2 separate regions of the Homo sapiens genome follow, and region 1 is linked to region 2. The links come from fine-mapping of genetic effects on gene expression. A gene starts in region 2. The other region holds a variant in brackets. All regions are shown on one strand. Distances are from middle to middle. Region 1 holds the start of METTL18 (methyltransferase 18, RPL3 N3(tau)-histidine). Region 2 holds the start of SCYL3 (SCY1 like pseudokinase 3).

Evidence for each region. PIP is the estimated chance that this variant, and not a neighbour inherited with it, causes the effect.
Region 1: its variant is fine-mapped to the expression of SCYL3 in whole blood (TOPMed, PIP above 0.99). The same link has a PIP of 0.9 or more in blood mononuclear cells, spleen and tibial nerve.

The regions. Positions count from the first base shown.
Region 1 is chr1:169,779,185-169,795,776 of GRCh38, forward strand. It overlaps METTL18 (methyltransferase 18, RPL3 N3(tau)-histidine), which reads right to left and starts at 15,723. Exons shown (of 2, transcript NM_033418.4): 1 at 15,631-15,723; 2 at 13,345-14,713. The coding sequence starts at 14,511. The coding sequence ends at 13,393. FIRRM (FIGNL1 interacting regulator of recombination and mitosis) reads left to right here and starts at 15,856. Exons shown (of 25, transcript NM_001320047.2): 1 at 15,856-15,931. RefSeq lists enhancers at 2,822-3,323, 15,456-15,775. The variant A/C (reference allele first, on the strand shown) is at 9,162.
Region 2 is chr1:169,885,839-169,902,430 of GRCh38, forward strand. SCYL3 (SCY1 like pseudokinase 3) reads right to left here and starts at 8,058. Exons shown (of 13, transcript NM_020423.7): 1 at 7,950-8,058; 2 at 2,838-3,052. The coding sequence starts at 3,002. RefSeq lists enhancers at 7,226-7,813, 7,814-8,401, 8,076-8,485 and silencers at 7,496-7,555, 7,796-7,875.

The sequences.
Region 1 (16,592 bases), 110 kb before region 2:
CTATCTGTTTCCAGTATACTGGCCTGGCTTTCTTTTTACCTCTTTTATATGCTCTTCCAGTCTCAGGCTCCTTTGGGGATTTGAAGGTATGTTGCATTTTGCTATTCAATGAATAATGACAAGTAATGATCACTTAAGACATTAAGTGGTCAGTTCCTTTACTAGGATAAAAATAATTTTCTTCCCAACATGGGGCATATTCCATTTCCAGTCTGACTGTTCTGTGTAATCTTTGTATTCCTTGGCAGCCCCTTTTATATCAGTTCATCTACTGTGCAGGAAATTGGACAAACATTTGCACTGGTATAACCAAATACAGTTGAACTTTTGGCTTGACTCTTAGCTGAACTCACCAAAAATAATTTCTGTAAGAGACTGAGACGTCTACGAGTAGGTTTTTCAGAATTAGTAAACATAAATCAAGGATACACAGGTAGATTTGAATTTCAGATAAACAACAAATACTTTTTTAGTATGTCTACTGAAATATTTGTATCTTATCTGGCAATTCTACCTGGTACAGAACTAATCCATTCTCTTGAAAGATCTTGACTCTGTAATAAGTTCTTTGGTGATGGAAGGGAGGTATTTCTGTAATTAGAGTCACTGTCTTCCTCCCAGTTTTTTATCCTGGCCCAGATCTGCAATGAACACACGACAGAATCCAGGGGGGATGAAGATGGGTGCTTTGCAGGAAAAAAAAATTAAAAACATCTGAAAAAGCTTTTGTACTAAAAGAATGTGATCTAAAAAAGAAAGCAGGAGAACTTTCTGTCTGCACTTTACATCAGAACAACCTTGGCGTCTAGAAGCTGTGCCCTGTGGGAAGTGGTGGTGCTTGGTAAGAGATGCCAGGACCAGTGGTACCCACTGGGAGCACTGCCAATACCCAGCAAGGAGCATGGGTGCACAGTAAGGCATTGCACTGTGATTCAGCATAAAATAACAATAAGGGAACGTCACGGAGAAAAGGCCAGACTTCCTTTGTTTAGAATGTGGGAAATGTCTTCTGAAAAATGGTAGTAAAAAAGCATGCTTGGATGGTCCACTCCAGGCAAAACTGACTAATCGGGGGTCAGGGATACAACCCCTGCATCATATGTTTGTTTCTGTTGGGCTGACATGAGGTTCACTGTGACCACTGTGGTTTAACCCCATAGTCTCCTGGAAATACAGCCAGGTCAAGAGAGCTCCACATAAAACATAATCAAAAAAATAAACTCAAGTTTCCACTGATCAGCTTTTCACAACTCTTATCCTTTCACTAACTTTGGAGCAAGATTTGAGAATTGGATGGCTATTTGAGGGCTATTTCTGCGCTTTAGTTCAATGTTTTGTTCTTTCTTTATTAGAGAACTATGGTTTTTTATTATATTTACACTTTAAGTTCTAGGGTACATGTGCACAACGTGCAGATTTGTTACACAGGTATAAATGTGCCATGTTGGTTTGCTGCACCCATCAACTCGTCATTTACATTAGGTATTTCTCCTAATGCTATCCCTCCCCCAGTCCCCCACCCCCCGACAGGCCCTGGTGTGTGATGTTCCCCTTCCTGTGTCCAAGTGTTCTGTTTATGTGATAGATTACGTTTATTGATTTGTGTATGTTGAACCAGCCTTGCATCACAGTCACTTGCTTACAAGAAACAAACACTTCACAGATGGATCATTATGTGTGATAAGTGAAATCCAAGGATTTATGCTCAGAGGTGGGCTTAACAGGTAGGAAGAGCAGTATTTTCCTTCAACCATGAGTGTATGCAGGTTTTTCTTTTCTTTTTTGAGATGGAGTCTCACTCTTTTACCCAGGCTGGCGCGCAGTGGTGCGATCTTGGCTCACTGTAACCTCTGCCACCTGGGTTCAAGCAATTCTCCTGCCTCAGCCTCCCAAGTGGCTGGGATTACAGGCACCTGCCACTGTCTCCGGCTAATTTTTGTCTTTTTAGTAGAGATGGGGTTTCACCATCTTGGCCAGCCTTGTCTTGAACTCCTGACCTCATGAATCATCCTTCTCAGCCTCCCAAAGTGCTGGGATTACAGGCATGAGCCACTGCGCCCAGCCCACAGGTTTTTCAAAGACTAAACTTAAAAAAAAAAAAAAAATTTCCCAATGAAATATAAAACTAAAGTGCTAAACTGTGATAGACTGTTTTACAAGAATGCCAGTTTTCACAAGTGTCTATAGAACATGTAATTTAGATAGGTAAGATGAAATTTTGATAATATTTGATGGCAAATTTAAACAGGTATACAACAAAAATAAAATTCTAAGCCCCTCAACCAACTGAATGGACTCCTTCTCTCAGCCAAAGGAATACCAAAGTAAACCTGAAAAACTAGTTTTGGCCAGGATTGGGGGTAGGTGGGGGAAGCCCAACATGACTCATTATTCTCTCCTCCCTTTGGAATTCAGGCACAACTGAATGTCAGCATTGACACTAAAACACAGATCTTAAGACTGACAAGCCAGACTCTTTGTAGCAGAGAGCCAGGCCCTGGAAGAAATCAAGTTATTTTATCCCAAAAAATATTTCTTTGATATATTTTCAAATGGCCCTGCAAAGCTGTCTCTTGTGGGGAAAATTGACATGCTGTACAGAATTTCCTTCTCTTTCCAAGTTTTTACTGATCCAGGAGAGATTTAACTAAGAGGCTAGCATGTTTTTTTTTTTTTTTTTTTGAGGCGGAGTCTTGCTCTGTTGCCCAGGCTGGAGTGCAGTGGCGTGATCTCAGCTCACTGCAACCTTCGCCTCCCGGGTTCAAGCGATTCTCCTGCCTCAGCTTCCCGAGTAGCTGGGATTACAGATCCATGCCACTATGCCCAGCTAATTTTTGTATTTTTTGTAGAGACAGGGTTTCACCATGTTGGCCAGGCTAGTATTGAACTCCTGACCTCGTGATCCGCCCACCTCGGCCTCCCAAAGTGCTGGCATTACAGGCGTGAGCCACCGTGCCCAGCACAAGACATTTACCGTCTATTCTCTCTGAAGCTACTATCTAGAGGCTTCATCAACATAATAAGACCCTTGGTCTCCACAACTCCTTATCTTATCCTATTAGTTTCTACTGATTCCAGGTCTTTAGATAATAACAACTCTTTCAACCAATTGCCAATCAGAAAGTCTTTGAATCCACCTATGACTTAAAAGCCCCACTCCTTCAAGTTATCCCGCCTTTCTGGACTGAACCAATGTACACCTTATATGTGTTGATGGATATCTGCCTGTAACTTCCATTCCCCTAAAATGTATAACATCAAGCTGTAACCCAACCACCTTGGGCACATGTTTTCAGGAACTCATGAGACTGTGTTGCAGACCTTGGTCACTCATATTTGGCTCACAGTAAACTTCTTTAAATATTGTATAGAGTTTGGCTTTTTTCATTGACACAGGAAAAATAAAGAATTGGAAGGTCTTTCATCAGTCACTGAGCCAGCTTCATATCTGACTGAGGTCATACAGTTCAGTGATTTGTAGCTTTGCTACTTAGATTGCTATCCATTATCTAGAAGCATCAGGATCACGTGGGACCTATTGGAAATGCAGACTTTCCTCCTAGAACCCAGGACCTTGGAATATTCTTGGCACATAGTAGGTGCTCAATACATATTGAACTCCTAGGTGCAATTCATTAATTCATGAATTAATGAATTAACACGCTCTCAAAGTTTAGTGCTTTTTCACAGACTAGTCTTTCTGCCTCTTAAGCACTCAGCTCACCACGCTTCCAGTCTCACTCCCCTATTAGTCTGATTAAAATCTGCTTACATGTGAGTCTGAGATCAAGTGTTATCTCTTCTGAGAAGTCTTCCCTCACTGGCCCAAAGGAATTTCTCCTCTATTTTAGCACTGTCCCAGTTGACTTGTCATTATTCTAGTCTTTTTCATATTAGTTGTTTTTCATATATATGTTATTAAGGAAACTAGTCATTTCCCCTAATAGAACAAAATTGCTGGCCTTTGGGGTTGGCAATGGAGGGGAGGCTCTTCTTGAAAAGGGGGAAGAGTGTTCTCCTAATATTTTTCTTACGAGATTTATGTTGCTCATCTTTAGCCTTTAGTCCCCCATTGCCTGCCTACAGTTGGCAGAGACCATCTGTTCTCTCACTGTCAGGAACTGTCTCAATTCTTGAAGTTCAGAGTCAAAAAAGAAGCAAGTTTTCCTAGCTCTTTGATCAACTTTCAAAGTTTTACTTCCATTTGAAAATTTACTAAGTCACCAGGAGATGGTTTATACTGAGAAATATCCACTCATACTCTTCCTCTTCAACTTTCTTCCATATACACCCTATTACAGGGATATAGTCTTACTCTATAGCTCAAAAGGATGACCCTATCAGAAACCTGCACAGTATGTAAAACATTCTCACCAGAGGTTCACTTGTGTATTTCCACCCTAGAATGGAAGCTCTACAAAAGCACAGAATGTATCATTTTAACTTTAGATTCTATTTTCACACCCAGTGCTTGACACATGATTTGAAGTTAATATTTATTTATCAAGTGATTGTTTTAAAATCATGACTCACTCAACAAAGTTATAAGAATAAGAATAGTGTTACAGAATTGGTATACACAAGCTGACCATAATCAACACACCTATTATCATTTTTTTGCGACAGGTTCTCGCTGTCTCACCCTGGCTGGAGTGGAGTGGCATGACCACGGTTCACTGCAGGTTTGAACTTCCAGGCTCAAGCAATCCTCCCACCTCAGCCTCCCACATAGCTGAGCCCACAGGTGTGTGCCACCATGTCCAGCTAACTTTTTAATTCTTTGTAGAGACAGGGTCACCCTATGTTGCCCAAGCTGGTCTTGAACTCCTTGGCTAGAGAGATCCTCCCTCCAAGGTCCCCCAAAATGCTGGGATCTCAGGCAAGAGCCACCATGCCTGGCCATAATCAATACACTTTTAAGAATGCTAGAATGTTATATCAGATGCATACTTCAGCACTATCTCAAGCAAACTGGGGTGTGGGTTATTCTACATATAAAGTTCAGCAGTGTTGTTCCACAGTCCCAAACTCCAACTGAGGTCAAATGTAGGGTGCAGCAAGGTCACTGGGGCTGTCATCAAGGGCCTCTCCTTGCACTCTTGCCAACCCTGTTTCTTGATTGTCTCTACCACCATGAGTCACCAGCAATCTCCCACAGTCACTTGTTTAAAAGTTCACAAGTATTGTGTGAATTGCAGGCAACCCCTTGACTCCCTGATTGCCTGGTCTTCTTCCTTGGGCTCTACCATTTTTTTTCCCCAGCACTCTTTCTGCTGCTCTAAATTTTAATTCATGCAATTCCATATGTGTTTCTCTATCATTCTTCATCTCTTTCCTCTCCCTTCCATCCAATTTTGTTTGTCTGTTTGCTTGCTTGCTTGCTTTAATACATTTCTCTTTTTCTGAGAAGGCTTGAGTCCAAAACTCTCAGTTACCTGTTGTTCTGTTTCCCGTTAGTTAATCTCCGAACCTTCATAAATTAAATCTGACAAAGTCCCCTGACTAACAAAGGAAATGCACAAGTCACAGTAAAAGGGGCACACACAGAACACAAATAGACCCAGGGTCTTTTCTGTTCATCACTCAGCTTTTTATAGGAGATCCAGGAGAAATGAAGTGGAAAGGGAAGTGTGTTGAGTTACTATACAACACAAGAGTAAACTTTCTTATAAGTGGTAATTTTTTTTTACAGGAATAATTGAAAATGGAAATTACCTTCTCTACTCATAGTAAGTACTCAGTGCGTTCTTGATGGGATGAGAATGTGTTTGAGCTTTAGTGTAAGGCAGAATTCTGTTTAGTCTGCCAGTATTGGAGAAAAATAAAACACAAAGGGACTGACATGTAGGAAGTGGCACCTGGGAGGGTCTCAATTCTTCCTATTACAAAAATGCCCCAGAGAAATAAAAAGCTTGTGTACATGTTGAGATGGGAGAGTTCTCTGGCCCCCCTCGCAGGATGTGTGACAGTGGGGTGGCTCTCTGCTGCGCCACCATGAGCTCAAACCCCTCATAGGAGGGGGAGCACACAGGCAGGAAGGTGCAGGAGCTGGGCGAGCTCTTTGGGCTCTGGCCCCGTGGTACTGTCTAGAGGTGGGTGCCTGCAACTCCTGAAAGCCCAAGTGGGCATGTGTTACAGTGCACTCTTTCAGCTTTGCTGTCTGCAGCTTAAGCGTTAACCAGCTCAGTTTCTTCTTGGTACCCAGGTCCTTGTCTGGCATCCAGGAAGAATCAGGTTACACATGGACTTGAAGGATGAATGTGGGAGTTTTATGGAGTGGTGGAGGTGGCTCTCAGTGGGATGGATGGGGAGCTGGAAGGGGGATGGAGTGGGAAGATGATATTCTCCTGGAGTTTGGCTGTCCAGCAGCCGATCTCCTCTCCAGTCGTCCCCAGCCTCTCGACGTTCAGATGCTCCTCTTCTCTCCTTCTCTGCCATGCTGTTCTGCCGTTCATCTGCCTGTCTCTCTCTGGAGCCTGGAATTTGGGGTTTATATGGTACACAATAAGGGGCATGGCAGGCCAAAAGGGAACTTTTTAGGTGCAAAAAACAGGAATGCCTCTTCTCACTTAGGGCTATAGATTTTCAGGCTTGAAGGTGGGGCCTTTACCAGCGAACCTGTATTTCCCTGTCTCCTGTGCATATCAATGTAATCAAATACTGGGCTGATCCAGGATGTTTCTTTAGACCAATTATGGGTAAAATAATTTACATTCAGGTTTTTATATTTGCTTTTGTCATTTCTTTTTAAGCAATCATGTAAAATATCTATACGACAGTAATAGATGATAGCGAACCTAATTAAAATTACCAGAAACTTAAGAATCTCTAATGATTTCAACTGTAACTAAGGTTATTTCTCTTTATGTTGAACAATGTTGGGAGATAAGACACAAGAGTTTCTGAAGTATTTCAGAAACACAAAGAGGGAGGTTATATAAATAATATTTTTTTCCTACTTTGGGAAAATGAAAGCTAGTCACAAAGTTAAACGAGTGGTTATTTTAATATTTAAAATACAGGCTTGGATGTATTTCCTGTTAAAGAAAATAAAATGCAGAATATTCAAAACGTCTGACCACCCTTCTAAGAAAATGCATCTCTGAGGTATTTTTCCTTAGAAGTTATTGTAAAAATCCTGGAGAAGCTTGAACACAGCAAAGCAAACAGGATGCAGAGTTTAATCTGTGGAAAGCTTAGGGAAGAAAAGCAAATCATTAAAAATAGGTCTTCCTCTGAAGATTTTTAAAACGCAAAGAGGGTGGAATAGCAATGATAATAAAAAAGCTGGCATAGAGAGTGGCACAATTTGCTGTGCCACTGAGCTGACTGGATGTGTTCTGAATTTCTAGGCATTAGTGTACCTTTCCACACGCATTCTCCCTTTAAAAAAAATGCCCACACACTGAATACTTTTTTCATGCAATTTAAAATAAGCGCACCATCTAGTTTACAGAAATTCACTAGAAGTTATTTATCCTAAAATAGCAGAGATCTAGAAGAATTTTGAGCTCTAGGACATTTTAGACACACAGAAAGAAGAATCTGGACAAGTCTTGACCAGACATGACAGAATAGAAATTTCTTTTCCTATTTATCTCTTTGAATAAAATTTTCAGGATCTTACAGTGGACAAGTTTGTTATCTACACATTGTGAAGCACATTGATTTCTCCTCTGTAGCCTTAGGAAGATCTGAGAGGTGACTGAGCTGATTGAATGATCCGTGACCGCTCTACTGGGACCAGTAGTAGAACTTTACTGGTGGAGACCTGCTGGAGGTTTGAGAGCAGACTTTGAAAATTACTAGAGCTACACAGATACTGTGTGGCTAACTGGATTATGTTTAGAGGCTTTCAGAACTATGCTGCTGCTGCTGCAGTGTAGCCAGGACGCACAGAGAACATCTAAGGCTCTTGAATGGGGCGATAGGGACAGATTTCAGCAGCCATCTGACTTCAGTGCTCATTTTGATGCTTTCCCTGCAGGGTGCAGTGTGCAGTGTGCAGTGTGCAGTGGTGGGAGGCTCACACAGGAATACTTGCTTCTGTAGCCCTAATTTCCGGTTCAAACTCTGCATTCACCTTGACAGATTCTTTCCTTGGCCAAAATTTAGTTAGGCTTCTGGGCTTTCTCTTATGCCCACCTGCAGACTTTTTGGTAAAATCCAGTTTTAGTAAAGAGCTCTGCTAAGTCAGTTTAGCAAGAATCCCCACCTCAAAAGTCACTATCTCCCTCCCTGGTAGTGTCTGGCTTGTCTTCAGCGAGAATTCTATTAGGTTCTGTTAGATTAGAATCCTCCTTACCCTTGATGCTTCCTCTTAGTATTTTTTCATCCACTGACTCCTTGACCCACCTTGCTCCTCGGCTATAAATTCCCACTTGCCCATACTCTGCAGTTAAGACTATTTTCTCCCCACTACTGCAAAATCCCATTGCCATGGTCCCTATACTATCTCAATGGTAATGAATAAAGTCTGCCTTACCATGCTTTAACAAGTAACATTGAACCATTTTTTTCTTTAACAATCTGCTGCACAATGAGATTACTAAAACTTTATTCCATTTTGCCATGCTGGATGTCCTCAATGGAATGGCTCTTGTGAGCACCAAATCATTGTGAGAAGGAAAACCCATCTCTTACAGCCCCCTGTAACGTGATGTATGTTACATGTGATGTATGTTACATAGTTTTTTTTCATGTTGATCACTTTTTGCCCATTTTCCTATATCTTATCAGTTGGAAGACTGTGGAAGTTTGTAGTACTAAGCCACAAGATGACTAAGAAGAGTTGAAAGGGCAAGTGGGGCTAAAAACAGATTTTGTTTGACTTACCCCACCATTCCCCCTATCATGGGGCTGAATCTGCCTGGAGGAAGGAGCATCTTTATCTTTGTACTGTGAACCACACAGTCTAGCAGCAGCACAGCCAAGGCACTTGGGGTTTCATGAGACTAAGTACATGCAATTCTATTGTAAAGGCTTAAAATATATACAACTGACCCTTGAACAACATGAATTTGAATTGCATGGTCAGTTATACGCAGATTTTCTTCCACCTCTGCCACCCCTGAGACAGTAAGATCAATCAATCCTCTTCCTCCTACTCCTCAGTCTACTCAAAGATACTTGAAGTCTACTTGAAGATGACAAGCACAAAG[A/C]CATTTATGATGATCCACTTCCACTTAGTGAATAGTAAATATGTTTTCTCTTCCTCCTAATTTTTTAACACTTTCTTCTCTCTAGCTTAATTTATTGTTAAGAATACAATCTATAATACATATGACATACAAAATATGTCTTAGTTGACTGTTTATGTTATCTGTAAGGCTTCAGGTCAAGAGTATGCTATTAGTGGTTAAGTTTTCGAGGAGTCAAAAGGTGTATGTGGACTTTCAACTGCAGGGGGGTGGGCACCCCTGCCCCCATGTTGTTCAAGGGTCAACTTTACTGCCAAAGGCAAGCCTTTACATCCACTTTTTCCATCCCATCAGTAAATGGAAAAAGATAGCTACAGTATCCCTGCGTCAAATCTTTTTTTTTGCAGATCACAAATTGGCCACTCACCTTGCTCTGTGAGGGGTAAAATGCCCCACTTTCTTTAGTAATATTTAAGTTAGATAATATTTAAGTTATAAAGTTGTTCTTTGTAATCGTTAATTGTAATTTTTACATAGTTTCTTTCAAACAGAAATAGCATTTTTGTTAGATAACCTCCCGTATAGATGATGAAACTCCTTTTAAGGGCTATCTGAATTTTAATTCCTTGAAAAGGCAGAAATTGGATAGCTAGTAGTCATAAATGTACTGTGGCTTCCCCCAACCATCTGGGCTATATAGAAGCTGCATCCTTGGACTGCAGTAGAGGAGTCTTACAAAGCACAGAGCAACTTCTCTCCTGGGTTGCGCTAGTTATGATGGCAATTTTAAATGTGTACTTTTACCCAAAGAAAATCCTTATTATCAACAATCACAATGCCATCATAACCATGGTATAAAAAATTCAAAATGTCCCAGCTGAAGTGGAGGCAAAGACTCAAGTTCATGGAGTCAGAGTTTCCTTGCTATTCCTCTTTTTCAAATGACCATTTAGTAAGCACCTGAAGAAAATACTATGGACGGCATTGAAAAGTGAAGATAGGTTTAATCTTCTCGAAAATCTAATTCTCCAGATGAAACGCTGACACTTATCCACCCCACAGACCCTATAGCAGATGTGTCACTGGCCATCACATTTGACACAGAGAAGTCATAACTCAGTCAGCACAGAGACATTTCCATGAGTTTCTGAACCATGGACAGAACGTCGTCTGTGGGACATGAAAACTGGAACTTAGAGGACAGGCACATCTGAGAAATGGGCAGTTTAAAGGCAGAACATAGCACATATGTGACTGGGTTTTAGAAGCAAATTTACAAGACGCACTCTTCTTCATCCTAAATAATCTGCAACCAAAGCTTCCAAAAAAGACAATTTAGGAATGCAGAGGTGAGGAGTAGGGAGGGGAATGGGATGAGAGAGAGTGGAGATTAATGGTGGGCAGAGCGAGGTTTAGAACTTAGTGGTTTCTTCAGGTTCTGAACTGAAATTTGTATACTGTAAAGGCACAAACACCATTTTTAACAAAAGTGAGCAGGACTTCCTATCTGGTTCAGAAAATAGGTGAATAAATAGTACGAATTATTAAAAATAATAATTTCCACTTATACATAGGAAACTTGATAGGAACCATGATAAATGCTTAACTCTTAATCTTCAAGGAACTCTGCTAGGGATATAATATTATAAATCTTGTTTTGCAGATGGAGAAATTGAATTTTAACCCAAGTTATCATAACCCTTAAATGATTAAATGATACTGTTACATGAGAAAGCTGCGTATCTGTTTCCTGGATTTGTAGCCATAATTTGTGTCTCAAGTCCCTTTTGCTGCCAGCTATCTTGGGTAGGTGTGTTCCCTTTGGGCTGTTTGATACCCCCACATTTATCTTTTTTTTTTCTCTTTTTTTGTTGAGAGAGTCTTTCCCTGTTGCCTAGGCTGGAGGGCAATGGCGCGATCTCGGCTCACTGCAACCTCCGCCTCCTGGGTTCAAGTGCTTCTCACGATTCTCTTGTCCCAGCCTCTCTAATAGCTCGGATTACTGGCATGCACCACCACGCCCACCTAATTTTGTATTTTTAGTAGACAAGGGGTTTCTCCATGTTGGTCAGGGTGGTCTCAAACTCCTGACCTCAGGTGATCTGCCTGCCTTGGCCTCCCAAAGTGCTGGGATTACAGGTGTGAGCCACCATGCCTGGCCCCAAATTTATCTTTAATGCCCCAAATTATCTAGTTCCCATGACTGGGCTTCTGCTTTGATCCTTTCTGCACTTGCTGGACCCTCTCCCTGGGAAATGAGATTGTGTCCTGAGCCCCTAGTTAGAGGCTATGTCTCTGCTGTTCCTGAATGGGCCTCCTGGATGAGACCTCATTAAAAGTCTAATTCTCTTGGAGAATTGAGAGATACCTATTTGTCTCAAAATCATTGAAACCAATTAATGTATTATGAGCCTCTATCCAGTGATTTGTACCTCAATTCCCCAATCCAGCTGTCAAGGCCAATTTGTTCTACCTTACCTAGTAGGTAAGTCTGGAATTGTAGCTGTGGCATTTTCAGTAATGGTACTCTAGGTTAGCAGTCCCCAACCTTTTTGGCACCAGGGACCAGTTTTGTGGAAGACAATTTTTCCATGAAGGGCTGGGCAGGGGAGTGGTTTCAGGATGAAACTGTTCCACCTCAGATCATCAGGCATTAGATTCTCACAAGGAGTGCGCAAGCTAGATCCCTCACACATGCAGTTCACAATAGGGTGTGCACTCCCATGAGAATCTAACACCGCTGCTGATCTGACAGGAGACAGAGCTCAGGCAGTAATACTCATTTGCCTACCGCTCACCTCCTGCCGTGCAGCTCAGTTCCTAACAGGCCACGGACCAGTACTGGTCCACGGCGCAGGCATCAGGGACCCCTGTTGCTAGGTATAAGCATCTGGCTGCTGCATGTCTTCTGTGTAGCTACATCTGTATGTGTATCTGATGAGATATAAATTATTTGATTATAAATTACTTTCTTCATATTAGAGTTGTGAATGAGTATCACATATAATTATACATAAACTAGGAATATGCTTTTTAATAATGTATATAAGTAAGTTTCCTTAACTATGACTTTCATCTTAGCGTAGTAAGAGGGTGCTAAGAAATATTTGTGATGAAAATAGGCATTGGTAGAGTTGAGACCACTGGGTGATGAAAGAGTGTAAAGATTTTAAAGCCTTCAGATGCTGGTTCAAGGTGAGAAATGTGATTGGGAGCAAATCAATTAACTTCTTGAAGTCTTATAGGGCAGTTATGAATACTTAATGTTAACATATGTAAAGCTCTTCTGCCCTGTATACAGTAAATGCTAGTTAGCTATTATGATCACTACTAAAATGGGGATGACATAAACCTCATAAGGTTTTAAGTATTATGCAAGATACTATACAAAGTCCAGTAAATATCACATTCAATTGAATCCATGATGTCCGATTATTTTAGCTACTTCCAAGAGAGAAAAAAATGCTGTCAGTTTTACTGTTCTTATAGAGAGCAAGGCAGATCCCAATTCCCAATGTGGTAACGTGAAAATTTTTGCATTTGAATCAACAAAACACTTTCTCCTTTCTTTCCTACTATTTAACAACTGGTAAGTCTATACTCCCCCAAATCTGGAATTCTCCTTTCTTATTCTTTTTCCTCCTACCAAGACCGCAGGATCTTTTACTTGGCTATAAGGGGTAAACCTCAAGTAGTACAAGTTCTCTGTATTACTTTTATACTCTGTCACAGATTCCCTTTGTTTCCTCATCTCCATGTGAATTTAGTTAAATTCTCAGCATTCTGATCCTTACTATACAAGGTAAATGAATATAAAAACAAAACGAAACAAAAACCTCTTCCTATTTACATAAGGCCCCAACCTAATATTTAGTGATATATATTAATGTGAACAAGGAACTAACGAAGACTGGGAAGAAATTCACAGACTTGAGAGAAGAAATGGCAGGATTTCCTGGGAACAATTTCATGTAACGTCAAAGGTGGTAAAAGGTCAAATAGAATGAAGATGGAGAATACCGGATTTTCTTACAAAATGATTTCCCAGGAGATCTCATCAAATGCACGAGGATACCTTCTCAGTTTCACCTAGTGAGTAAAAGACTGGTAACATAGCTCACTTACAATTTGGATAAACAAAACTAAACAAACAACATCAAAATTTCAGAAAAAATAATAGCAAAACAGAAATCAAACACTCAAATTTTTGGTCCTTCTGTTTATTTCATTTTGGATACTCAGTGAATGTTAATTAACCAGGAAACTTAAAAGTTATTTCAATTATGAACCTCTTCAATCCTTCATCAATTATTTTGAGTATTCTGGTCTTAAAAACATCTCTTTCTTCTACAAACTTCTGAAAGAGATGAACACCTCCACCTACACCAAAATAATGTGCTTTGCTGGCCAAAAGTACACGTCCATTTTTACTTAACAGTCTAAGGAAAGTCTGGTGCAAATTACTATAATAATCTGGGTTGTAAATGGTTTCTGAGGTGAGAATGAGATCATATTTTACAAAAAGTTTTTCACTACTTAGTACAAGCTTACAAAACTCAGACCACTCACCAGAAAAAAATCGGCATTTATATAGTTGTGTTACTTTTGGTTTCCTGCATCTTTTCACATCTGGCTCATTTACATCATTTTCTTCATCTTCCAAAGTGGAGTTAGCTACTACATTAGGTAAGGTTACTTCATCAATCACCATACTGTTATAATCTTGAAAGTGAATTTCTTTGGACCCTCCCTTGAATGCAGTTATACCTAGTAAACCTGATCCACAACCAAGATCCAAGACTTTTTTCCCAGCAAATTTCACTTTGGCCTTTGTGAAATAAGCCAGGAGGTCAAAGGTACATTCCCAGATTTTTAAGCCTCCCTCATAAACACCTGTAATCAGATCAGAGTGAGAAGAAAAGCTTTTTGAAACTATGTTTTCTCCAGGGAAGTTCTCTTTCAACAAGATGGTTTTCACTACTGATAACTTAACATGCTGGAAACCTGGTAATGTTTCTATGACTTTATTTTCTAACATCTTCTTTAAATCTTTAGGCATAGCATGCTCTTTGGCAGCTCTCAAGGAGGGCTGTTTTCCATGTGGCTCCAAGTTCCTTGAACTGCTGGCTGCACTGAGTGGACTGTCTGTGTCTTGAGAGGGAGCTGCATTTTCCATTGACTTATGTTCCCACAAGTGATCCTGAGGCAAGTCAAATTGTTCTGCAGAACATTTTCTGTCCCTCTCTTCTCCTTTTTGACTTTCTGAGACTGACAGCTCTTTTGAGGAATCCAGGGTCAAAGCTCCATCTCTAATGGGTGTTAATTCATTTTCCAGATGGTCTTCTATAGTGAAATTAAACTGAAAGGTCATCCTCTTATTAAATGCACACAATCTTTAAATTCAGATTCTTCAACTTCTGGATAGAATTTGATGATACACACAAATCTGCCTCAATTATTCAATTAGTTTTGTTGGGCCCAATTTCTCTTTAGCAGCTTATACATGGTAACAAATATTTAGAGATATTTCCAAATGACTTTTTAGACGTCTTTGGTCCTCTTTCCAAGCAGCTCTGGAAAGAAAAAAAAAAAAAAAAGAAAGAAAATGATGATTAAAGCAAAATGGCACATTTCACTAAAGTGTAATATTAAACAGCCACCCCCACCCCTCCCTGTCCCACCATACAGCTGCTTTTTCTTAAAAAGTTGTGGGGAAGAGAGAGAGATAAGAGATTTGGACACTCATACACACCTTAAGGGTTCCAAAGTGGGAGAAGAAAATCAACTATAAAAACAAACAGAAGAACAACAGCAACCACCACCACTACCACCTGGACAAACATAAAGTCCAAGATATTCAGACAGGACAGCCTAGCTACTTGCTGTCTTTCAGCTGTCTTGATTTGTGTCCAACCATATTCACCCCCTAAGCTTCCAGAATAACTTCACTTCTGTCTTTTACAGAAGAGGTGCAGTATTTTATTTTGGTAAGTCAGCGTCCCTTTAAAAACATGCATAGGTATGGCCTGGTGTGTGTAAATTCATCCAAGACTTCACTCCAAACATTTAGTCGAGAACAGCAGCCCTAAGTGTATAGAAGTGGGGGTAATTTGGCAATAATTAGTAAAGACTAATTCGGTGGCAGAGCAAACGCAAACTAGGGCACTGCAGTAGTTTGGAGAGACCTGTAGAAATAAGAAGCAACTTTATTGAGAATCTTCTATCTACTGCGCTAGACACTATACCATCTGCCTCAATTTTCACAGTTCTGGCAAGTGGGATCTTTGTTCCCTTTATACAAGATTTACAATTTGGGGGAGAGGCGGGTCACCCAGTCCCGCGGCTAGGAACGCGCCTCTTTCCTCTCCCATCACGCTGCAAGGCTTGGAGTCACTTCCGGCTGCAGGTCCCGGAACAAATCCGACCCCAGAAGTGGGGACTTCTGGCCCTCACCTCCCCATTTGAATGTAATGTTTACAGTGATCCAGACCTGGGGATGCTTGCTTCCCGACGTGTCCTGGGATCGCGCTTCTGAAAAAGCTCACCTCACAACGCCTCCTCCGGACCTAAATCGCGCACCAGTGAGTCGAGTCCTCCAGGGGCTAGAGAAGCCCGACTTTCTTTCCGGCCTTGAGGGACCCGGGCTCACCAAGAAACCAGCCGCCCTCCTCTCTATGGTTTTGGAGCCGGCGGAGAGCGCGCAAGGGTTGGCGGGACTGCGAGTTTCCGGTCTGGGCTTTGGCGGGTCTGGTTTGAAGCTCTCCTGTTTGACGAAAGTATGTCTCAGGAAGGTGCGGTCCCAGCTAGCGCGGTTCCCCTGGAAGAATTAAGTAGCTGGCCAGAGGAGCTATGCCGCCGGGAACTGCCGTCCGTCCTGCCCCGACTCCTCATATCCTTCCTTGGTTGTCACTTCTACCTAGAGAAGGGTGTGGGCGGGTCGCGAACCTTTCTCTTCTGTCCCTTCAGACCCACCGCCAGGCTGGGTTATATTACCGCGGCCTGAACCCCCTCTTTTCTTTGTCAGTGAGTGGGATGAAAAGTGAGGGACTGGAGGGGAAGCGACAACCGTGGTAGATTTAAGTAAGGCTTTGGCCCTGGAAAGCCTCGCGGACGTGTTCTGACCCAAGGTTTTAGCAGTGGATGTGGCGTTTTCTTCCATTCCTTCTTTCAGTTTTTCTGTACTCGTTGCTTGCAATTAAGTGTAAATACTTTTGCTAGTGGATAATGGGGGAGGCAAGGACTGAGACCTGCGGTATGACGATAGCTCTGGCTCTTAATAGTTTGAGGTAAAGCGAGATACTCTGAGCTTTTGTCTCCCGTAAAAAGGGTGGTGAATATGAATAAGGGCTTTCTTAGCGTTATAAGAATTAAAGGGCATAGTTCTGTGGTGTGAAATCTTTAAAAGATGTTCAGTAAATAAAAATGATTTTCCTCCTTCCCCTCTCAGACCTC
Region 2 (16,592 bases):
AAGGAGAGCGTGAAGTCTGCAAGGTGTGGTGGGGAGCAAGTAGCTGGCCATTCCATCTGGTGGGTCCATCATACCTGAGGCATGGGGGATACTTCTGAAGTTCTTCTGAGTGGATAGTGCCCAGAAGCCACGTAAGAGCACTGGATTCTGATTATGAAGGGCAAAAAATAATTTCTTAAAAAGTCAACCATGGGCCAGGTACGGTGGCTCATGCCTGTAATCCCAGCACTTTGAGAGGCTGAGGAAGGCGGATCACGAGGTCGAGAGGTAGAGGCTATCCTGGCCAACATGGTGAAACCCCACCTCTACTAAAAATTCAAAAATGAGCTGGGTGTGTCGGCGCGTGCCTGTAATCCCAGCTACGTGGGATGCTGAGGCAGGAGAATCACTTCAACCCGGGAGGCAGAGGTTGCAGTGAGCCAAGATCGAACCACTGCACTCTAGCCTGGGAAACAGAGTGAGACTACATCTCAAAAAAAAAAGTCAGTATGAGAGAGGAGAACAGCTTTCTCCAATTAGAATGCAAGCTCTTTTGGGCATAGCCATCATCTCTTCCATTTCTTGTTATGCCCACACAATGTGCATTCTTAAATAACATTGACTAACCCTTCCACAACAGCCCAAATTCATTATGGGGAAGAGCATAATGACTCCAACAATACTAAATAGAGCACTTATATAGCATCTACATACCACTCTTAGAGTCCAATGTGATTCCTGGCATAAAGACACTCAAGAATCATTTTTATAAGCTTTAATAAGCTTACCACAAAGCCCTAACTAAACACTTAGATTACAGCAAACTACAGCAACCAAATTCGGGCTTAGAATTTATCACTGTTTATAGGCTTACATATATGAGTCATCATCATCAGTTAGCAAATTATACTGTTAATTATAGCTGATGAATTCAATGTAAAATGAGATGGTCAGATAGAACTAAGTATTTCTCACATTATTTTGTGGCCAGAGCTTATACCTGCATTTCATCTTGGTGTATACTAGGATTGTTGTTTTTTACTTGTAACAGTGAAGAAAGTGTATATTGTTATCCAGTAACAGAAAACACTATATATCTGCTTGAAATAATCGTTAAAACTACCAAAGGTGTGACCAACAACCCAAACTCTAGAGAAAGTGAGGCAAGCTAAATATATTGTTTTAGTATTTCAGATACCTAGGACATCAAATTCCTAAAATCTAGCACATCGAATGCCATACATTTCTCAAGTGCTATGACCTAGTTTTTTAAGATTATGAGAAACATTCTGAGAATCTAAAGTTATCACTTTGTTGCAATTTCAAATTTCCCAAATTCATATATGAGGTTTTCAAAGCCACAGAATGGCTTAACAAGAGACAAAGATGAACTATGTGCAAAGACTCAGACATGGCTTAAAAGGGTATCTATGAATATTAAGGGGGAATAAGTCTTCCCTCTCAAGCTTCGCAATTCCTTCAGCACAGAAGTCCTCAAAAATGGAGAGTGGTCTTGCTGTTTTTTCCTTTAAAAACTCGATCTAGGTTATTCAATTTTCTTGGTACGTGCACCATAAAGTGTAACACAATTTTAAAAAAATCTTATAAAGAAAAAAATACTAAGAAAGATAAGTCTCTAGTACCTCGCCGATAATAGTTTATTAAAAAAAATGCACAATCTTATTAGATGAAAATAACAGGAGGCATGTTAGACATTAACTGTAAGAACAAGAAAGCGAAGTAAGGCATTTTGTCTTTTGTAAAATCACAATAAAAAATTCTTAACAATACCTAGATGATGTAAAAAAAGAGTCAAAAATGTGGTTCTACCAAAAAGCAAAATTACCTAGCAAGAAAACAGCCAGCTATATACTTTTTACCACCACGCATCTCGAGAGAACTGTTACCCATCTTTTTCTTTAGGAACCATCTTATAACAATTTCATGCTTGATCAAAAATACAACATCAAATAAATTACTGTTGTGAAGACCAAAATTCCATTACTAATATAATCCTTTATAATCATTTTAAAAAAATAAAAACAATTTAGAGTCCTATGAAACAGACATCAATGTTCCATACCTGTTGATAACTAAGGGACTCAAGGTAATAGAGATTATAATTCTAACAAAATCAAGATATCAAGTTCAACTTGAAAATAGCATGCCTACCAGAATAAACACTGGAGAATTAATTTACTAATACAATTACATTTTCCATTTTAGAAGATGATATATCTGAATTCCTAAATTTCCAAAGTGCTAGCTATCCAAAGAAGCATCAACTAATGCCTTCATTTTCCCTAATTCAAAAAGACACTTGGGGTTATTTTATTGACTTACATTCCACAGTAAAATCATTTTTTCTGATAAGAGGCCAGGATCTCCTGAGTGTGTCAGACAGCATGCTAATGCACTGGCACCCTCTGCCTGGAGCAACAATTATAAGGCATGAACTACAAGGATCTTTTCCCTAAGGAGGAAGCTGAAGCCTCCAGAATGATGTCAATACTTAACTGCATTTTGCTAGACGAGATTAACTCCTTATATAGCTCCTTATATCTTATATTAGCTACATAAAAATGTCTCCCTAACTTTCTCACCAGAAAAATAAAATATGATGATAAAAGCCATTGTACTGAGTTTTATGATGTTTTTTGGCTACAGGTATGGTACCTGACCATGTCATGCAAATGGAAGATAGGCCCATGAAGTAAGAGCAATGTTTTGAAAGGACATAAATAAAATACTGGTCCTTATGATCTTACCTCCTTTGAACTTTACTAATTTCATATTTTTTTAAAAGAAAACAAGATAGTAAAAAGTACTAACTATTAAGTCGTCACCTATTATGGTACCTTGGCAGCTTTATTAACCTTGTCTTCATTTTCTCTCTTATACACAAAAACTGAAGCAAATTTGCCATCTTGCAGTACAGCGGGATAAACAGCAAGTCCAGAGGGTAAGGTAAATGGTGGTTCTCTCAGTGTATAGCTCTTTAAAGCACTGTTCTCTGATCCCATCCCTTATGCAGTGAGGCAGTACTGCCACTCTTCCTCAAAGCCAAGCAGATCTAAAAGAAAACAGAAAACAATTTCAAACATTAAATCCCTATCTGCAACATCAACAAGAGATATCCAGACATAGCCACCCCAAACTACTAGTTTCTTTGATCCTCATAACTAGGACATTTGACAGTAAAAATGGTAAACGCTCTGCAAGTTACCAGCAATGGTTGTTAATTAACAACTAACAGCTCTAGAGAAAATGCACATTACTAAATAGTCACAGGTAGTTACTGTCCCTCCCCAAACTCCACCACATACAAACTTTCAGAGTGGAAAGGCAATCAAAAATAGAATAAGGTAATTCATACTTCCTAACTCACTTGTATATCCTCACTCACAAAGGAAAATGTTGTAAAAATATTACTCAAAAACAATAAAACTTCTGTATGTAGAAAATAACTTAAAATTATAAAGGAAAACAATACAAATTGGAGAATACTTATAATGAGGAAAATCATGGTTTTAATATTAATATGTTGAAAAACATTGTTAATATGATGAAAAACATATTAACAAATGAAGAGCTCATATAAACCAAGTAAAACACTAAAACACCAGTACAATAATGGGAAAGAAAACAGACAACTCATTGAAGAAACACAAATGACGATAAACATAAGAAAAAGTACGATCGCACTACTCTTCAAAGCTATCCTAAGTAAAAAGGGGAAACCGCAAAACTGAATCTCAAATAATCTCAATTGCTAAAAAAAAACAAAAGCCCACACATACACAGAATTCAAATGCAACTATGACAAAATACTTCAGTGCTCACCTAGTGAAGGGGCACAGTTAGAGGGATCAAGGGAGAGGAAAGGATTATCATGATGTATGAGGAACTTTTGGGAGGATGGATATATTCATTATCTTGATGATGATGATGGTAACGGGTGATTATGTCAAAACATAAAACTGTACACTTTTTTCATTTATTCTGTATCAATTACGCCTCAAAGTTGTTTTGAAAAGAAATATATGTATACATACACACAGACTTGAAAAATATATGTTGAAGTATTAACAGAGGTTTCCAGTGGAAGGTCAGATTATAGGTAATTTTATACACACACACTTGCCTGCACCTTCCAAATCTTCTACAATATGAACAGCTTTCTTGACAACAGGGATACAAACTCACAGGGTGACAACAGGTAATGTGCAGTGCCCCAGCAGTACTGGCAGCCTGGCAGAGGGACCTACTGTGCGTGCATGGGACCTACTGTGAGAGGCTTGCATTCTGAAGACAGTGGCTATCACAGAGTTCCAACCAGGACTGCAGTTTCAGAACTGTCAGATCATGCCACTTATCGTGAGGAACCAAGAGCCTGAATAGTTTTGTGGAAATCTCCATATTTTTCAATGTTGAATCAAATGTTTTCTAAACCTATATAGGCCAAACAACGTATGTCTGAAAAATCTGTGGCAGTCAGTTTTCAGTGGTGGCTTTACCATAATATAAAAATTAGAAAATAGAGTTCTTACTAACTCTGGCAATGTAGAAAGCAAACTGCTACAAATACGGCCAATAATTCTATGTAGGCCTTTAAAAATTTGTTTAAAATCTGTATTCTTTGGACAAATATAAACTCAATAATCATTACACATTGACCCTCTACTTGGAATTTTTCCCCACTTCGGTGAAATTCCATACAACACCTTCTACACTGGGTATGTAATGCTGCTCAAAACACATGCCTAGAACAAAATTTAAAGTGCCTACCGATCCACAACCATCGTTATATAAGAAACACATGTATAAAGGCTAAAGCTATCTAAAATTGAAGATTTTCAAAATCTAAAAATGTTGCTGAGAATAAGAACTAAATCTGCTTTGTAACAAATTCACTGAATTCCTACCTACCTGGCAATGTATCTTTCTTAAAAATGACAGAGAAGCAAAAAACAGTACTAAAAGAAATGCCAAGTATGGCAACTATGGTAACATTCACCTTTCTACTGGGACTACAAATAAAAAGTTTATGTGGGACCATGGGTAAAAGCAACAATGCTAATCCCTCTGTTCTGGAGATAGAGTGCTGGCCAGATTGTCACAACCTCCTGCTGAGTAGGGAGGATTATGCTTAGCACTTGATCTTGCCACCTCTTCTTGGGCACAGTTAATGTTGGCAGGTACCTATCCTGGGCCAAAGGGCGGTTAATTCACAAATTAGCCATCAATTTCATGGCCTGAGTGAAGAGATAAACTGGCCAGATCATTGTCTCCCCCAGGAATTTGAACTAAGAACAATTTTTGCCTATTAGAAGCATAGCCGAAGGTAGAAGGATGCTATGAGGTGGAGGTGGAGCTACGGCAAACCAAAGCCACATGAAGTCAGAAACTTTCCAGAGGAAGTCAGTTGGTAGTAAAATTTTAAAAAGCAAACACTGGGACCGTAGCTTAGTCATACTTAGGGGGCACATTACTACTATCCATCTCAAGACTACCGGAAGCCCAGCCTCAAATCTAATTCCACCCAGATACCCTAACATCCCATTGACACCCTTACAACCAGCCCCCTTTTCCTCAGGTAACTTGAATGGGTCTATGTTCTTTGAAACTAATTGCCATTTCATAGGCAGAAAGCTCTACTTGGTCTCCAACTCCTGCCTGAAAAGCCAGTCAGACTGGAAGAGTGAGTTACAGAAGTGTTACTTTGAAAGTATCTGAAGCTAGTCTGACCGTCTCTCTCTCACCCACAAAACACAGCTTTCCAAAATCAACACACAATTAAGAGAAAAGCAGAGAATAAGGGACTGTATATTAATGAATATCTTCTTCGCAGGAAATCATGCTGTTTATTTAAGTGTTAATATTAATCCTCATGGGAGATAAGACTGCCACCAGGATTCAGGGTCAGTGCTCTGGCTGATGAATGGCAGTCACCAGAGGCAAGAGAAAGGAACATTTAATTTACTTAGCTATTTCTAAATAGCAAAATACTTCCTTGTGGGAACATTGGCCTTGCAATAGCTATTAACCTTAGATTTCATATGAATTCCACTATAATTAACAAAGTTATAAAAGCATTAGGAAGTAGTTAAAATTCATTTTTCTTACTGTATTTTAGGTCTAAGACTAAAAAAATCACTTAAAAATTAAAAAGGGATGACTCAATTTCTTGAGAGAACTGGAAAGGATGCCATTTTCTTGTTTTGAAAGCATGTTAACTTTGACAGAAGTCCACTGATACCATCAGTGTAATACTGACAGTGGTAAGATTATATTGTATGTTCCCAGTGCAAACTTTATTGGGGGAAAATTAAAAAGGTGTGCTGATTATTGCAATTTGAGAATGTTTTGAAGCAGTAATTCTTCACACTAATATATCTAAAGAAGCACAAATACTGTTATATGAAGAAGTTTTTTTGTTTGTTTTTTGTTTTAAATAGAGATATGGTCTTGTTCTGTTGCTGCTGGCCTAGAGTGCATTGGCGCTATCCTATCTCACTGTAACCTGGAATTCCTGGGCTCAAGCTACCTGCCCTCCCCAGCCTCCCTAGTTGCTGAGATTACAGGCATGTGCCACCATGCCCGCCAGTGCTTTAAAAATGATAATTCAGCTAAAATTGATTTATTGAAATGTAAGAAAAACACTTGGCCTTCCAAAATGCTTTCCTGTTGTTTTGAGGACGGGGAAAACACAAAATCTTGCTCATTAGCTTTGAAATTAAAAAGTCACAAGAAGGTAGAAAAGGATATCCTAGTATCCCGTAATAGGTATTTCGTAGCACTTAGCATCTCCACTCTATAATAAAATGCTGAGTTGACAGTCTCTGACTTGAATATGCATCAGTCTTCCCTTTAATAATCTCCCTCCACTCTTTTGCCTACTTGGGCAGCACATAAAATTTCTGGACCGCTTGTAGATTAAGAAAACCCTTGTCTAGGTCAAAGGGCAACTCATACACTCAACTAAGAAACCCGTGTGCTCTATGGAAATGTTTCTACCAAATATTTTCTTTTCCCAGCAATTACTCGAGACTACCTTGGTCCTAGCTCCCTTAGCTTGAAAGTTCCAAAGATAATGGCTTGCACTCTGAGTATTAAGGATGCACTGTACTGGCTGATATTCTGGTATCCAGCGGTAACGTTACTCCGGCCCTTGCTTTCGTGTTTCAGGTATATATTCCCTCTGCGGAACTCAGTCCAGCATTGCTAGCTGACAAGCAATACACAATTAAGTCTTTATGGACCAAAATAATTGTGATTTCAGCTCAAGATACATTTTATAAGAACATGGGTCCCTAAAAACAGCAGTTAACAGTGACCCCCAAAATTCGAGACCCGACTCCGAGAATTTCACATGGATTCCTGAATATGCTCTTCCGAGAAATGTTTCATCTTTATTCTAAACAGAAAGCACTATGCCAAGACAGGAGCCAGCTGGGCCTTGGGGGACGGGCACTGGTCTTGGATCAAGAATGAGGCCGCCTTCCCGAGGGCGGGCGCGCCCCCAGGATCCCCCCGGGCTCGGGCACTGCCGCCCCGGGACAGTGACCCGCCCAGCCGAGCACCCTCGCCCTGCTTGCCGCGACCCCGCGGGGTCACTGAAGGGCCGAGGCGCCGCTCTCGCTTCGCTGGCCCCTCACCTTCCACACCTCCCTGCGAGGACCGACTCCGCGGCCGCCTTGGAGAGCTCTGGCCGCGGGCGCCTCACCCGTCGGGGGCCGCCCGCGAAGCGCAGATTACAGGGCGCCCCACAATCAGCAAGGGGAGGCTGCTCCGAAGCTGAGAGCACAGCTCAACCGGCCGCCGGCGCCGCGCCGAGCTCGCTCCCGCGCGGGCCCCAGAGCGCAGACCCGCGAGCGGGGCGCGCGCCCGCCGCCTCCTCCCCGCCCGGCCCCTTCCCCCACGGCGCAGTCCTGCAAGGACTGGGGGCGCAGCGCAGGGCTCCCTGTTACCTGCAGGAAGGCGGCGGGGGAGGAGGCCGAGGGTCTTGGCTCTGGTACCCTGTTGGCCCCCCTGTTGACACCAACCACCCCTGCCTGCCTGTAAGGCTGTGGCCACTACACCCACAATCTTCTGGGGGCCGGGTTTCTCCTACACCATAGAGACGGGTCCGGAAACGGGACAGAAGGCCCACCTTCCTCCCTCCGACGCCACCAATGAGGCCAACTAACCAGGAACCGAGGTAGAGAGGCCGCACAGCTGAGTCTCAGGCCGGTGCCATCTTAAGTGTGGGCGCCGCGACGATACCGAGTTTCACTCACTGCCCCAGTGGTCTAGTTAGTCCACGAAGATGCCCCCTTTCTAGATGTGTTGGTCGAATGCTTAAGTTTGTCTTGACTTGAATTTTTAGGCTTTTAACAGCACAGTTTTAATTTCATTTCCGCCCAAATCCAAAATGGCTGCTGGCCACTTGTAGCAAACAGTAGAGGTGCAGGGCGGAGAAAAGGAGTACGGGAATTAGCGAGGACTTTCAGGAGAGTGACGTCACTCAACCTGTAGCTTTGATTGGCTGGGCTGCGAGGGTGGAGTCGTGCAGAGCCGCTGCTGGCGGAGGTCGTGGTGATCTCGCTTGATCTTTGAGAGGGAAGGTCCTGAATCACATTTCATTTAGCAAAAAGTAATATTTGAAAATTTTAATATTAATGCAGTAGTTTTGCCCCCCTCCATGCTTTCTGCAGTGTCAGTTACCTGTGGTCAAACCTTGGTTCAGAAATGTTAAATGGAAAACTCCAGAAATAAACAATTCTTAAGTTTCAAACCGCCTGTATTCTGAGTAGCCCGATTAAATCTCGGGCCATCCACTCTGTCCCACCCTTGACGCGAATCATCTGTCGCAGGTAGCCGCGCTGTGTACAGTATCCACTCATTACCCACTCAGTAGCTGCTTTGGTTAACAGATGCACCCGTAGTATAGCAGAGATAATGAGAGATACCACCTGCTTATGTTCAGGTAACCCTTATTTTACTTAATAATGGCCGCAAAGCACAGGAATTGTGCTGACAATTTGGATATGCCGAGGAGAAGCTGTAAAGTGCTTCCTTTAAATGAAAAGGTGAAAGCTCTGGACTTAATAAGGAAAGAAAAAGAGTCATATGCTGAGGTTGCCAAAATCTATGATAAGAACAAATTATCCATGAAATTGTGAAGAAGGAAAAAGATTCGTGCTAGTTAACTAAGCACCTATCATGCACTGTGGCTGTAACTTTTGTAGTTTGAGGTGCAACAGCAAAAGACGGAAAAGGCATTACATTTGTGGGTGGGAGACATGAACAGAAAACGTATTTCAGCTGACCGCAGTAAGTTTTGCCAGAAAGTGTTGAGCCTATAGGAAGACTTAAGAAAGGGATCCCCTGAAATTAGGCACACCAAGCTATTTACTGCAAGTAAGGGATGGCTACACAGATTCAGGAATAGGTTTGGACTGAAAAACATAAAAATAACTGGAGAGGCCACATCTGCTGATGAAGAAGCTGCCACATGTCTGGCAGAGTTGAAGACATTGGTTAAGGAGAAAGGCTTCCAGGAGATTGATGGATAAGTTAGGAAAATCATTCAGGTAGCAATGAAACTGCCTTTGCAAAATTATGACTAAGGCAGTTAAAGAGATCCAATTTAACCAACTCCATCTTGTCCTTAACCTCCATGCTATCCTTGTTCATTCCTGGGCATAGGCTGAACTAACTTTGGAAGGAAATTAGTTTATAATTTACAGTTTAAAACAAAAACAATAAAAGCCCTTTCCCAAAACCAACCTCCTTCTTGCCTGGGGTCTAGACTACCAACATTAGCCACAAGATTAGAAATTATGGTTTGGGAGTCATGCAGCTGGAGGCCACAAGATTCTGACCCTCCCTAAACTGCTCCTGAGATCAGTGCTTCAGATGTTTTGCAGACCCTGCACTTGATGGATCAGCTGGCAACACCCAGATGATAAACTGGCCCATCTGATCTTGTGACCCCCACCCAGAACTGACTCAGTTCAAGAAGACAGTGATGCCCCATAGTTTCATCTCCGACCCAACCAATCAGCACTCCCTGACTTACTGCCCCTCCCCACCCACCAAATTGTCTTTAAAAACTCGACTGCTGGAGGAGACTGATTTGAGTAATAATAAAACTCTGGCCCCCCACACAGCCAGCTCTGCATGAATTCTTTGTCTATTGCAATTCCCCGTCTTGATAAATTGGCTCTATCTAGGCAGACGGCAAGGTGAACCTACTGGGCGGTTATAGCAAGACAAGTTGGTGAAAAAGGATTTGTCAATATGCTTGATGAAGAGGTGGGAGAACATATCAAAGGCCTCACTATCCATTCTGAGGACAGGTTTAACCTTCTCAAACTAGAAGCAGGGCTTAGTCACCCTGGACAGTCTCTAGTTCTGTGCCTCCTCCCACTTCCTCTATGTGGTCAGTCCAGACATCTGCCTTGTATGACCGCCTCTGGTGACCACCTCCCTATCGAACCATCAGGTACAAGCTGCTTGCTTCATCCCCTTGACCCCTATACCCCACATATACTTTGCAGATATGCCTCAGTGACCACCTCTTAGTCACAGTGGGACTAAGATGTTGGACCCAGGACCACAGTGAAGGCTTTGGCCCGCAAGTCCCTCTCTCTGTCTCGTCCCCCTCCCACTGGTTGAGCATGTGTGTCCCCCTTCTCATTGGCCCTGTGAGGCATGCTGTCCTCTTATTATGGATCTGTAAGTAATGAAACTGCTTCTATTATTTCACATGTTTTGTTCACCTCCTCTGTGTCTCACCTGACCTATACACCCACACCTGACTTGTTTCCTGGTTAGGGCTCTCCTAGAGAGTGGCTGTCTTGGTTGGAATAAACCAGACACGGGGCAGACAAGAGCCACAAATGTGCCTGCTAATATAAACAAGCTTCCTGTGAGAGGGACCTCCTGTCATGGGTCAGACACCTAGGATTTAGGCCGTCTGCCAGGATAAAGAAGTATTCCATGGAAGGCACACTGTAAATATCCAAGCCCCATCACGGAAGAGCTAACGTTTATAACCACTCCCAGAGAGAGACCTCGAGACCGAATTAGAAAAGAAATACAACACATAGACCCTAGGTTTACTAGCTCCAACATCCATTCCCACTCCTCACCCCCTTCTCCCTTGTTCACCTTCGATAAAGAAGTTAAGAAATCAAAAAGATCACTTTCTGAGCCTACTTTCCCGCTAGGGTGGTCACAAGTTCTGGCCGGTGAGACATAGCAGAAGTTGGGAGGAAGATAGACAGTGGATTAGGAAAGGTTTTTCCTCCCTATTAAAGGAAATGGCTGTGGGTGTAACAGCAGCAGCCACCCAAGCACCAGGAGACAGCGGGAGAACATGCTGAGGATGTCGATTTGAAAGACAGAAGGATTCTCTTGCCTTTCACACTATCCCTCGAGAGTTCATAACTATGTTTTTCCTCCTTTTACAGGAGGAGTAGAGATGAGTCCCTTCAACCAGTACGTGAAATCTTCTGCAGTCAACACAGCTACTTGCTGGCCCACCCTCTTCCCAGTGTCCTCACCTCTGAGTCTTTGCTGGCCTTCCCACCCTGTTCCTTGCTCCCTAATCTTATGTCCAGATGTGCTGAGCTCCAGGGTATCCTCTATAATCATTCATCAGCCTAGAGGACTCTGTATTTCCTTTCATTTCCCCAAGGTAAACCCACTCCTCCAAATATCAATGAGAAGGGAATATTTTGCAGTGAATGGAGTAGGAGAGAGATGGGAGGGAGTTTGACACTCAGTCCTTCCCCTCTTCACTCTTCATCTACTCACCTATTTGCTCTTGATGTCACTCAGGTCTCTGAACAAATGTCACCTGTTCAGACTCTTAAAGATTTGGGGCATTGAAATCACAGGCTAACTTGTATATTTTTGTCCAACAAAGATGCAAATCTTTCTGTCCAGTGGAAAAGTTAACCCCAAAGTTTATTCTTATTGCACTAGAGAGCATTTCTCATTTTAAAATCTAATCTAGTAATCTTACTGTATTTCTTTATAAAATTGCTTGTAAGTATGTAGCTACACAAATGCTCTTTGAACAGTCTTAATGTCTTTTTAGTTTCCTCATTAACTAATGTGTTCATTTTATATTTGCATGAGAGTTATAATTATATTTTGAAAATTCTACTTGAATGCAATTTATCAGAGACAGCTCCCCTGAAAACACTGTCTAAAACAGCACCTTACCTGCCTCTTCCTGTCTTTTGACTTTGCCTTATTTTGCTTAACACCAATGCACATATTTGTTCAGCATCTCTGTCCCACAGCTAGAACATCAGCTCCCTGAAAACAGGGCTTCCTTCCTTCATTTCTTTCTTTCCTGCCATATTTCTAGCACATAACACAGTGCCTAGAACATACTAGGTACTCAGTAAATATTAAACACACAAATGAATTTACTGAGAGCACACTGCATGTCCCAGGCACCCTCCCTACATCTCTCTGCCTCCCAGCCCTTACCCCACAGAGCCCTCTATAGCTCTGGTTCCAGTTCTCAGTTCCCTGGAGCTGCTCTCTGAGCTCCTTCTGCCTTTCTTATGCATAGAAATCTTGTATTCCCTCACTGATTCCTCAGTCCTCATTTTAAATATGTCTAAGGCCAGGAAAGAAAAGAATCTCCAACAACCTGAATCCGCTGTCCTTGGAATGTGGCTGGTGGGACAGTTAGAAACAAATAGTTTGTTTTCTTAATAGAAATAATTTTTTCTTGTCATACTGTTTAAGGATCAACCTGAATTTTACTTCCAACCAATCCTCTTCTTAATTCAAATCAAAACATGTCAATGGTATTCAGCTTGACTTTTAGGTGTTTTTTTAATTAATCTTTTTCATGTTTCTAACTTAGATTCCCAAGTAGACTATAAGTATCTTGGATATATTCCTGGTTCTATAAAAGCCTTAGCCATCCAACTTAATTATTTTTTTCCAACTTGATTTGAACTAACTTTTTTACAAGCTCTACCTGAAAACCAAAGAGAGTAAAAGTTATTCAAGTGATTTCTATTTAATGTTCTACCTCAATAATTTGTGTAATTGCATAATTGCAATTAGAATCTGGAAGTGTAAAGGGGGAAACTTGCATGAATGACAAACCCTCCTTCAGGCACATTTCAGATAAATACATATAGCATCCATAAGTAGTGGATACCTTATAGAAAACTGAACTGGACCTAAGCCACTTTGTTCTCTCGTTGTTTTTAGGAACTTTGCATAGATATTGGAAGATTTCTCTAATGAGAAGTATGTGTTTTCTAAGTTCCACCATAACCTTGCTACCACTACAAAGAGAGAATGAAAGCAAGTCTGAGGTGGGATTCTACACATTCACACGTTTATTAGCAAGGTTTAAAGACAGGCAGTAGAGCTGTTATACAAACTCAGTGAGGTTCCACTTCCTTGTGTAGGAGCTTGAATAGCATCTTGCATGAAAGGTCCATCCACTGCAGGAAGATGGGACAGTATTCTAATAGCAGACTCAGCTATCCTCATTAGAGCTGGGTGACAAAATCTTCTTGTAATCTTCTCCATATGGGGCTGGTCTGAAATCCTAAATCTAGGGCACCTTTCCAAAGTGTGTAGATTGCTAGACTCACTAGATTCTCATACTCTGATCATGTAAGGCATGGCAACATTTCTATTCATTCTGTCCATCTTGAAATTACTTATTTTGGCCATGAAAATTCACTTTTAAACATCCTTAAAGCCACTAGTATTGATCTGAGTTAGAGATAGCTGAAGTGTTTGTAGTATCTGCCCCAGGAGTATAGACTTCTCATTGAAATCTTTCAGATGCTAAAAGCCTCTGAAGTGTGAATTGCTTCTCAACTTCAAAGAGCCATGAATCATCTTGGAATCATACTCCTGGGAGAAAGATTTGGGGCAAACAATGTGTGCATTATATATCTACCTCTTCTTTGAAATACTTCAGCCTTCAGGGAGATACAGATGTGTACTAACTTAGATCTATCCTGTAGGGGTGGTTAATTAATATTTGAAGGCAACATGAGCATCCTCTGGAAGCATGTTAAAAATGCAAAAGCTGAGGCCTCACGCTAGATTGTCGAGTCAGAATCTACATTTTAACAGGATCTTTAGGTGATTTGCAGGCACCTTCCTTGCAGGAAGGTTTGAGAACTGCCCTAAATGATCTAAGGCCTCCCTCCTTTGGCCTCACTGCTATCCTCCTGCTCACTAACTCTGGTCCATGCTCAGTGGCCTCCTTGCTGTCCTGTCAGCATGCCAGGTGAGCTCTTGCCTTAGGACTTTTGCTCTAGCGCTTCCTTTTCCTGTCATTCTCTTTTCCCACATGTCCATTTGACTAAGTCTGTTACTTCTATTTTTTGTTCAGATCTCGTCTTCTCAATGAAGTCTGTCCTGATCCACCCTATCTAATTCTACAACGTTTACCTTCCTTCCTGCTACACTCCTGGTGCTTCCTATCCTGTTTTCTTTTGCTTTTTCCCTCCATAGCACTGACCGTCTTATAAACAGCCATATACTGTATTTTCTAGATTGTAAAAACTATAGTTTTTCACATTTTAACATCCCTGAAGGTCAGAATGCATTTTACCACAAATGGCATAATATAATTTGTCAATAATTTTTTCTTAGTGGTACCAAATATATTGATGCTTCCTAAATGTGATGGCATCATATATTTGATGAAATATGACAATTTGCTTATGTATTATGGCTTTTGGTTTTGAGAGAAAACAATTATCTGAAACTTTAAAATAGGCAAAAGAGGTTACTGTGGCTTTCTTCCCATGCAATTCTGGATTAAATTCCTATTGACTAGGTTATTTTACTACTTCTTTATTACCTTTTTAGGGGCAGAGGCTAACTTTTTCATTTTCATCCACTAGAGATGTAAATAAGTTTGTCCAGCACAGCAAATCATCTTAATGGTTACAGTTTATTGTCCTGTAAGTTATTAACCCAGCAACCTGAACCTGACATGTCTTTATCAAATTGCCTACATATACACCTATCTTCTCAGCTGCTATTTGGACTAGTTTAAAATCTTACTGATTCCCTCATTAATAAAAACATTAAATAGAGTCTTTGACATGTGTTCATTTTATATTTGCCTGAGAAACCTCATTGTACTTTTTTAAAAAAATTACATTTTAATGGTTTATTTCTCCCCTGCTAGAATGTTAAGTTTCACAAGGGAAAAAAATCTGTTTTTGTTCAATGATCTGCCATAAATGCTTAGAACAATGCTTGGAACATTATAGATGCTCAACAATTATTTACTGATGAATGAATGAATGGAAGTATAGAAAAATATATACTAGTCTGTTAACATTCACCATGTAAGGTAGGGAGAGGTTACTTTCTTTATATACCTTTTTATATATCTGCATATTGTTTTATGTGTTACAGTGAGCCTACATTGTTTTTGTTTATTTGTTTAAGAGACAGAGTCCAGGCTCTGTCACCCAGGGTGAAGTACAATGGTGCAATCATAGCTCATTATAACTTTGAACTCTTGGCCTCAAGCAGTCCTCCCATCCCAGCCCCTCAAGCAGCAAGGATTACAGGCATGTGCCACCACATCCAGATACATTTTTTAAATTATTTTTTGTAGAGACAGGGTTTTGCTGTGTTGCCCAGGCTGGTCTTGAACACCTTGCCTCCTGCTTCAACTTCCCAAAGTGCCGGGATTACATGCATGTATTTTTGTAATTTTAAAGATAATTTAATAAAGAGATGAGGAACTGAATGTAAAGTTGTATAAAGGAGGAAAAATAATCGTTCCTTTTCCCCCTCTTAATTTCATTGTCTGGGGCCCCTATAACAAAGATTGAGAAGAGTAAAACAAACAGAAGTTTATTCATGTGTATTTCATATACACATAGGAGATACTCAAAGAGGTGGCTTAGAACTCAGGCATATATGGCATCTTCAACAAAGAAGAATAAACTCTTAGAGAAATAAGACAGAAGAAAGGATGGCAAACCATGGTAAGGCAAATAAATGGAAGTTTTTAATGTAGGTTCTTCTAGTGTTGACAGAAGCTGCCTTTAGTGATCAAACTTTGTGTTTCCTAGTGGAGAGGGGAGAAGGAATACTTTTGTAAATTTATATCTTGTTTTGAGGGAAGTAGGAGTAGGATAGAGAACTTTTTAAAAATATCTGCTCCTTCTCAATTGCCTTCAGCTGAAAATAATCCTTATGCCAAGGAGGCATATTTTGGGCATATTCTAGTCTCCTACACTTAAATTGGAAGCTTTTGAGTCTTACATCTATAAAACAGTGCCCGTAGCCTGTAATTCCTCATATGATAACAATCTTGAGGGTCTTGTGATAGTAGCTCCAAAGCATTGGTAGGAAACAGGAGGGGATACGGCATGGTCACATTTCCTGATAAGGTATAGATGGCAGTTAACTTTACAAATTTATGCCAAGAAACAGTAACTTATGATCTTTAGCTAGTTTCTCAGTCCTCTCCAAAGCTGTGCTTCCAGCTCAGGACAACATAAAAACCATTTGCTCTGTTTCCTTAAAAAAAAAAAAAAATTCCCTGTTGCTCACTGTACTATTCCAAGTCTTTCTCAGGGCTGCCATCTCTCCTG